Homo sapiens: one gene and its partner. The protein of the gene in region 1 purifies or fractionates together with the protein of each later gene. This does not show direct contact. Each region holds a gene or a part of one and is shown on either strand. Other genes may lie near its edges. The genes, in order: PAFAH1B1 and ASNS.

Evidence for each region.
Region 2: the proteins of PAFAH1B1 (region 1) and ASNS fractionate together in Homo sapiens (co-fractionation; 2 studies listed by BioGRID). This does not show direct contact.

The regions. Positions count from the first base shown.
Region 1 is NC_000017.11:2,666,371-2,670,253, reverse strand, and holds part of PAFAH1B1 (platelet-activating factor acetylhydrolase IB subunit beta), read right to left. Parts: intron 3,263-3,883; coding exon 3,056-3,262; intron 92-3,055; coding exon 1-91. UniProt on the Homo sapiens protein: Regulatory subunit (beta subunit) of the cytosolic type I platelet-activating factor (PAF) acetylhydrolase (PAF-AH (I)), an enzyme that catalyzes the hydrolyze of the acetyl group at the sn-2 position of PAF and its analogs and participates in PAF inactivation.
Region 2 is NC_000007.14:97,870,920-97,874,874, forward strand, and holds the start of ASNS (asparagine synthetase [glutamine-hydrolyzing]), read right to left. Parts: upstream 1,490-3,955; 5' UTR 1,432-1,489; intron 1,247-1,431; exon of another isoform or gene 800-1,246; intron 1-799.

The DNA of each region.
Region 1 (3,883 bases):
GCTTGCCGCTGTGGTCGAATGAAATGTCCTGTACAGAGTCTGTATGTCCTTTAAGAGTTCGTTCAAAATCTCCAGTCTCATAATCCCACACCTGTCAAGTGAACAGAAAATTGGTTAACACCAACTCCATCACTCCTTTCTTGTTTCACATTTGCACTCAGCAGGCCAGTCTGGCACCTTACTGAGTAACTAACCGAACAAGTAACAAAGGATAACTATTTTAGAAATATTGTATCTCATGTATAAATTGGTCTTTTTTTCTACAGGGAAAACTAATGTTGCAATTATTAAAATCTATCTCTAGAACCACATTTATAAGGTTTCTATCACATAACCAACTGTAATAGTGATAAGGTATATAAAGTCACAAGACATAGTCCGCTCCCTGTCTCAGAGCAGGAATGACATGTAAATAAGGAAACTTAAGGGGAAGAAATAAGAGGAAAGAAAGAGAAAGAGATGGAAAGGAAAGGGAAAGAAAGGGGAAAGGGAAGGGGAAGGGAAGGAGCTTCAGAGGGCTATAGCAGGCATTTGTATGTAGAATATTTGAGGAACAATGGATGAATACTCGATCCTACTAGACCATCAGAACTCAGACATCTAAAGGGCCAAGGAAAGATTTCAGAAGATGTTAACTGTTCACGAATAGCAAATGAACAAGAGCATATGTCATTTTGAGTTAAAAAATGAAATATGGCCGGGCGCAGTGGCTCACGCCTGTAATCCCAGCACTTAGGAAGGCCAAGGCGGGCGGACCACGAGGTCAGTTCGAGACTATCCTGGCTAATATGGTGAAACCCCGTCTCTACTAAAAAACACAAAAAATTAGCCAGGCACAGTGGTGGGCGCCTGTACTCCCGGCTACTCGGGAGGCTGAGGCAGAATTGCTTGAACCTGGGAGGCGGAGGCTGCAGTGAGCCAAGATCATACCACTGCACTCCAGCCTGGGTAACAAGAGTGAAACTCCATCTCAAAAAAAAAAAAAAAATTCTAATTGCTGGCTAAATCACTATTATAGAAAACATTATAGTGAACATTTTTTAATATAAAAAAATTCTGTCCTCATTTTATAATACCTAGGTCAGACAGTAATGGGGAGAAACAATTAGTGGGTCAAAAAGTATAAACTTTTAAAGCCTTCATATACTCTATTAAATTGATATCCCGTAAGACTGTATCATATGTAATGAGAATGACTACTTTATCAAAATCTTATCATCACTGGGAATTCTTATTTAATAGGTAAAATACCTTGACAATTTGACACACATATATATGTATGTGTGTCTCACTCTTGTCGCCCAGGCTGGAGTGCAGTGGCGCGATCTTGGCTCACTGCAAGCTCCGCCTCCCGGGTTCACGCCATTCTCCTGACTCAGCCTCCCGAGTAGCTGGGACTACAGGAGCCCGCCATCACTCCCGGCTAATTTTTTGTATTTTTTAGTAGAGACGGGGTTTCACCATGTTAGCCAGGATGGTCTCGATCTCCTGACCTCATGATCCACCCACCTTGGCCTCCCAAAGTGCTGGGATTACAGGCATGAGCTACCGTGCCCAGTCCAATTTTTTTGTTTTTAAGACAGGGTCTCACTCTTCGCCCAGGCTGGAGTACACTGGCTCAATCATAGCTCACTGCAGCCTCCAACTCCCAGGCTCATGTGATCCTCCCATCTCAGCCTCCTGAGTAGCTAGGACTACAGGCATGCACCACCATACCTGGCTAATTTTAAGTAGAGACGAGGTCTTGCTATGTTGCCCAGGCTGCTCTCTAACTCCTGAGCTCAAGCAGTCCTCCCACCTTGGCCTCCCAAAGTCCTAGGACTATAGGCATGAGCTACCACACCCGGCCCATAATTTCAGTGTTTATTTCTTCTGCTGTTAGTAGTAAGGCCAAACCGTCGTTACTATTTGGTTAGTTGTAACTACCTTTTTGAGACAGTCTCGCTCTGTCGCCCAGGCTGGAGTGCAGTGGAGCGATCTTGGCTAACTGCAACCTGTCTCCTGGGTTCAAGCGAATTTCCTGCCTCAGCCTTCCAAGTAGCTGGGACTACAGGCGCACGCTGCCATGCCCAGCTAATTTTTTTGTATTTTAGTAGAGATGGGGTTTCTCCGTGTTGCTCAGGCTGGTCTTGAACTCCTGAGCTCAGGCAATCCACCCGCCTCGGCCTCCCAAAGTGCTGGGATTACAGGCGTGAGCCACCGTGCCCGGCCGATTGGTTATACTTTTGTAAATGAAACTTAATATCTGTAACTTACTTTGAAATAACCCTTAGGATAGAGGCATCTACCTAAATCTACCTATATTGCAACTATCTTATCTTTCTGTAGGTGGTTTATACAACGGTCATTTTATTGTGTCCGGAACAAAGGCAACTTAAAAACAACTCTTTTCCTAATTAAAAAAGCACAACATTAAAAGGTAATAATATTTTTACTGTGAAAAAAATTTTTTAATGAAATACGTAATTTATAAAATGAAAAGCTTGTATATTCCCACACTCCTGGAAAGCCAATTTTAAATACATCAAGGAAAGCCCAATTTAAATGAATCCTCTACTGAATTCTTTTGCAGTATAGATTCACCCTATCAATTACTAGTTTTGTCAATCAGTATTTCACACATAACCTCCGTTTAAAGGTAAGACACACACTTTTCATTCTCCAAGAACAAAAATTGTTCAAGCACAAGGTGATGTACTGACATCAACTCAGTTAGTGACACCCGACTTTCTCAAATTCACCATCAAACTTACCTGGCAGCATGCCTCTCAGGAGCCACAATGATATTTTATTCCAATTCTGTCTTTTAAGATTTAGAACCAAATCACACGTTTCAGAGTACCTCCTGTCCCTCTTCATAGGCCCTCATTTTCAGGATCTTTTAATTTTCTTCACCCTATTAAGTCTGCTTTTTTTTTTTGAGACAGAGTGTGGCTCTGTCGCCCAGGCTGGAGTGCAGTGGTGCAATCTCGGCTCACTGCAAACTCCGCCTCCCGGGTTCATGCCATTCTCCTGCTTCAGCCTCCCGTTAAGTCTGCTTTTAACAAAAAATTACCTTAATTGTAGCATCCTCTGAAGCAGAGACCATAACACTGAACACAGGATGGAAAATGACTCGAGTGACTGGACTCCTGTGACCACTCAATGCATATTTTTCTGGCGGACGGGGAATCCATTCTTTTGGGTCTCGTTTCTGACCAAGAGGTCCACCTGACGTAAATTCTTCTTTTGCTTCATTTAGCTTTGATTCTAATTCCATAACCTTGAAAAAGAACATGTAGTTACGTACAGATAGATTTCAATAAAAATAGCATGTGACATTTTAAAAAACTGCCTTTATTTTGCAACTATGTATGTAGGATACTTGAAAAAATTTCAGTAATCTCCAAAGCATTTGTCAAATTTAAATGAAAATTATTTATTTTGTACAGCATCAAAATCTAAGTCATGTGAGGAAACTAAAAATTGAGAAAAATTCAGTACAATTGCCTTAACTCTTTAACAAAAAGAAAAATTTCGATTTGTATCTGGTGACAGAGTCCTCTACTAATTAGAGAAGGGCAGTGAATTTGTCTTGGTCCCTCTAAGGCTGCTACTCTTAGTAAGTTCTTTCCAAACCACATTATATATGGTAATAATAATATTAATAAAAGCTAATATTTATTGAGCATCTACTATGTGCTAAGCATTTTTCTAAGAGCTTTATATGATGAACTCATAACAATGTTATTTACTTATTCTAACTTTGCCTATGAAGTATCCATTTTAGGACTGGAATATTATTTGTTGTATTTACAGATAAAAATAAAAGCTCAGAGATAAAAACAACTTGTCTACGAGCACATTTTAGTGTTCTTTTCCCAGCATTAATCACAATGGCTCC
Region 2 (3,955 bases), on another chromosome or scaffold:
CAATTAAAACTATAACCTATTATTTTTATTGGAATCAGTCTTATAGGAGGGCAAAGTTCCTACTGCCGCTACCTGTTCTCAATATTTTTCTTATTTCTTCCTAAACTTCTAGAACAGTGCTGTCCAATAAATATATATGTAAGCCACATATGTAATTTTAAATATACTAGTAGCCCCATTAAAAGAAAAAGGTGAAATTAATTTTAAATAAACTTAACTCAGTATGTCCCAAATAGTAACATTTTAACATATATGTAATCAATATAAAATATTATCGAGCAGATATTTTACACTGTTCTTCCTACTCCAACGACAAAATCCAGTGTATTTAACACAATACATCTCAGTTAGGACTAGCCAGCACTTCAAGTGCTCAACAGTTACAGGTGGCTAGCGCCTACCGAACTGGACATGGCAGTTTCAGTGCATTTAATTTCTATTCCACTTAGTGCTACTTACAACTTCACCCTCTCCCTTTACTTTTATATTAAGATCTCAGTAAGTAACCAACTACAGACAGGTTCAAGCCCTACTTTACCTCTAATTACTCTTACAGCAATGCTATGAATCATGATTTAAAATTTAAAAAAAAAAACTGCTGTTAAATTATTAGTCAAGCGCCCAGGGCAATGGACAGTAAAGAAATAATGTAGGCCACGGGCCGAGATGAAAACTGTCCTTTTTATTTAAAGCTATAACAATCATCTGAAGCCAGCCCTGCAAAATGACAGCCATTGAAAAAGGCATGCTAGTTCTTTTGCCTTTTTCTGTACTTGGTCGCCTGTGTCCCTAAACAGACCTCTTCTCGGCAGGGTTTGCTCAGCAAGTCACTTGATGAGTCTTGCAGTCTACAGAGACAGGTGGGGACTGGTGGGGATGGCGGGGTGAGAGGGGAGGAGGAGGGTGAGCGGTCCAGGTGAGGAGGGGGGCAGTTGAAGGTGAAAGCAGACACCGAGACGGTGATAAGGCCGCAGTCTCTTCCTAGATCAGGACCACGCGACACCTGACTGCGCCCTGGCCACGAGCACGATCCGACCCGTCCGCCGCAGGGACCCGGACCGCGAAAATGTCCACAGGCTTCGACGCCACATAGTAAAAAAAAGTACACATATAACATTTACAGGGGCTCAAACTGCCGCTGCCTCCTCTCCGGAGCGGTCCGGCCTGCCGGCCGCGGTTCCCTCTCGATGCTTCAGGGAACCAGGACAGAAAGGTCCTTCCGCTAGCTGTCAGGTGCGTAACAATCGCTAGGCGTCCGCCCCGCCCTCCCTACCGCAGGAGCCGCAGCATCAGCAGGCGCCCGCGAACCGCGTCTGCCGGGTGCCAGGCTGAAGACCGCATCCTCCACCCCTTCCTTCCGGAGCAGCCCCAGGGCACGCGAGGAGGATGCTGGCGCGGGGCGCAGGGCACGGGGCGCAGGACCCGGCTCACCTGGGCGTAAGCAGGTCAGGGTGATGTGGCGGGCTGAGGCCAGGGATGTGGACAGCTTGACGGGCGGCGAGGCCGCTGGCGCTTATACCGACCTGGCTCCTGTAACGCGTGCGGGAAGTTTCATCATGCCTGCGAGGACCAACCAGCGCGCACAGGGGCGGGGCCGCGGGGTGTCCGGGGCGGAGCAGGACTAAGTGGGGCGGCGGAAGGGCGCAAGGAGGAGCTCTTTTGTTTCCAGCGCCTTGCGTCTCAGTGCGCCTGTTTAAGGATAGCCTCAGAGCTCCGCCCAGGCTACCTGCTGTTCTGACAATTAGGGAGGCTTCTGAACTTGGTTTGTTCTTCGGGAAATCATCACCGTTTTTTTGTTGCACTGCCGTCTGATTTATTATGCAGTGCAGAGAAAAGCTTGTCCTAAGAAACTGATGCGTGAGGCCTAAAATGTCCTTATAAGATCTATTAATAAATCGGGGCCAGGAGCGGTGGCTCACGCCTGTAATCCCAACACTTTGGGAAGCCAAGGCAAGAGGATCACTTGAAACCAGGAGTTCAAGACCAGCCTGGGAAACACAGCGAGATCACATCTCTATAAAAATTGGTGGCACACCATGGTAGTCCCAGCAACTCAGGAGGCTGAGGCAGAAGGATAGTTTGAGCCCAGGCGTTTGAGGCTGAGGTGAGCTCAACTCCAGCCTGGGCGACAAAGGGAGACCCCCATCTCTAAAACAATAAAATCTAAATCTAATTGATACATGAAGCCAAAATACATCAGTGGTCCTTAAACATTTTAAGTACAAAGATTCCTTTTAGAATCTCAAAAAGGATTTTGTCAACTTGCCTCCACAAGATGATTATGTGCTTTTAAGTATCTCTTTGATGAAGAAAAGACATCACGATTTTTAAAAAGTATCATAACACTCTTAAATCGTATTTTACTAATTACATCAGCACCGAAATAAATTGAGAAATAGTAAAATTATATGTGCACGACCTACTAAGATCAGACTACAGTCAATGCTTGGAGAGCATGCAGGTTTGATATCCCCATACAACGCATTCCTGACTAAATCAAAAACGTCAACAATTTAAAATCCCTAAGAACAGAAGATGGAGTAGTCGCTTAGTAGTTACAGGCAAGAGCAAAGATGAGAGATGACTTGTTCTAAGGTTCATTGTTGCTGGAAAGTTTTCAGTATCAAACAGACTTTGCTGTATCCTAATTGACGTACTTTAAACCTGAGAGCAATGTGGGAAAGTAGGTCTTCTATCTACATTTTACAAATGAAAAAATAAGACTCAGAAAAGTTGAGGGATTTATCCAAACACAGCTTCACAACAGTAGAGAACTGAGTCATAATCTGTGTAAACCCAGAGCCCATTTCCCGTAGCATCTTGCCTATGTAGTGAAAGACAGGTTCCCCTGCTTGGTGTGTTACCTAGTGTGCTTCCTTGTGCTGCGTATCTCCTGCTTGTCCGTCCAGAGCTCTACACTTCTCCACCTCACTTTCTATCCTGGCTCCCTTGCCCTCCTCTTTCAGGGAGAGTGTGCAAAGGCAGACATTTCAAGGAGATGCAAAAGGTGAAATTAAAATTGCTAATGAAGTTTTGGCACCATTGTCATTGATAACATCTTATCAGGAGACAGGGTTTTGAGATCAACCGGTCTGACCAAAGTTTATTAGGTGGGAATTTTCTCTTCCTAATAAGCCTGGGAGTGCTATGGGAGACTGGAGTTTATTTCACCTCTGCAGTCTCGACCATAAGAGACAGGTACGCCCCGGGGGGCCAGTTTAGAGACCTACCCCTAGGTGCGCATTCTCTTTCTCAGGGACGTTCCATGCTGAGAAAAGGAATTCAGCGATATTTCTCCCATTTGCTTTTGAAAGAAGAGAAATATGGTTCTGTTCTGCCTGGCTCACCGGCGGTCAGAGTTTAAGGTTATCTCTCTTATTCCCTGAACAATTGCTGTTATCCTGTTCTTTTTTCAGGGTGCCCACATTTCATATTGCTCAAACACACATGCTGTATAATTTGTGTACTTAACGCAATTATTACAGGTCCTGAGACGATATACATCCTTCTCGGCTGACAGGATTAAGAGATTAAAGTAATGACAGGCATAGGAAATCACAAGGGTATTGATTAGGGAAGTGATAAGTTTAGTCCATGAAATCTTTACAATTTATGTTTAGAGATTGCAGTGAAGGCAGGCATAAGAAATTACAAAAGTATTAATTTGGGGAACTAATAAATGTCCATAAAATCTTCATAATCCACGTTCTTCTGTCATGGCTTCAGCTGGTCCCTCCGTTTGGGGTCCCTGACTTCCCGCAACACAGCACAGTGCCTGGCACAAAAGAGTTGCTCAATAAATACATCAGGATGAATAGATAAATACACGGATAGGCACTTTGAACTACAGATGAGCTTAAATACTTTGTGTTTTTCTTAGTCAAACATGTGCAATTAAGCATGTGATAAATGTTATGATGACCACACGTGTGTCTTGCCTGATGTTCTTTGCAAT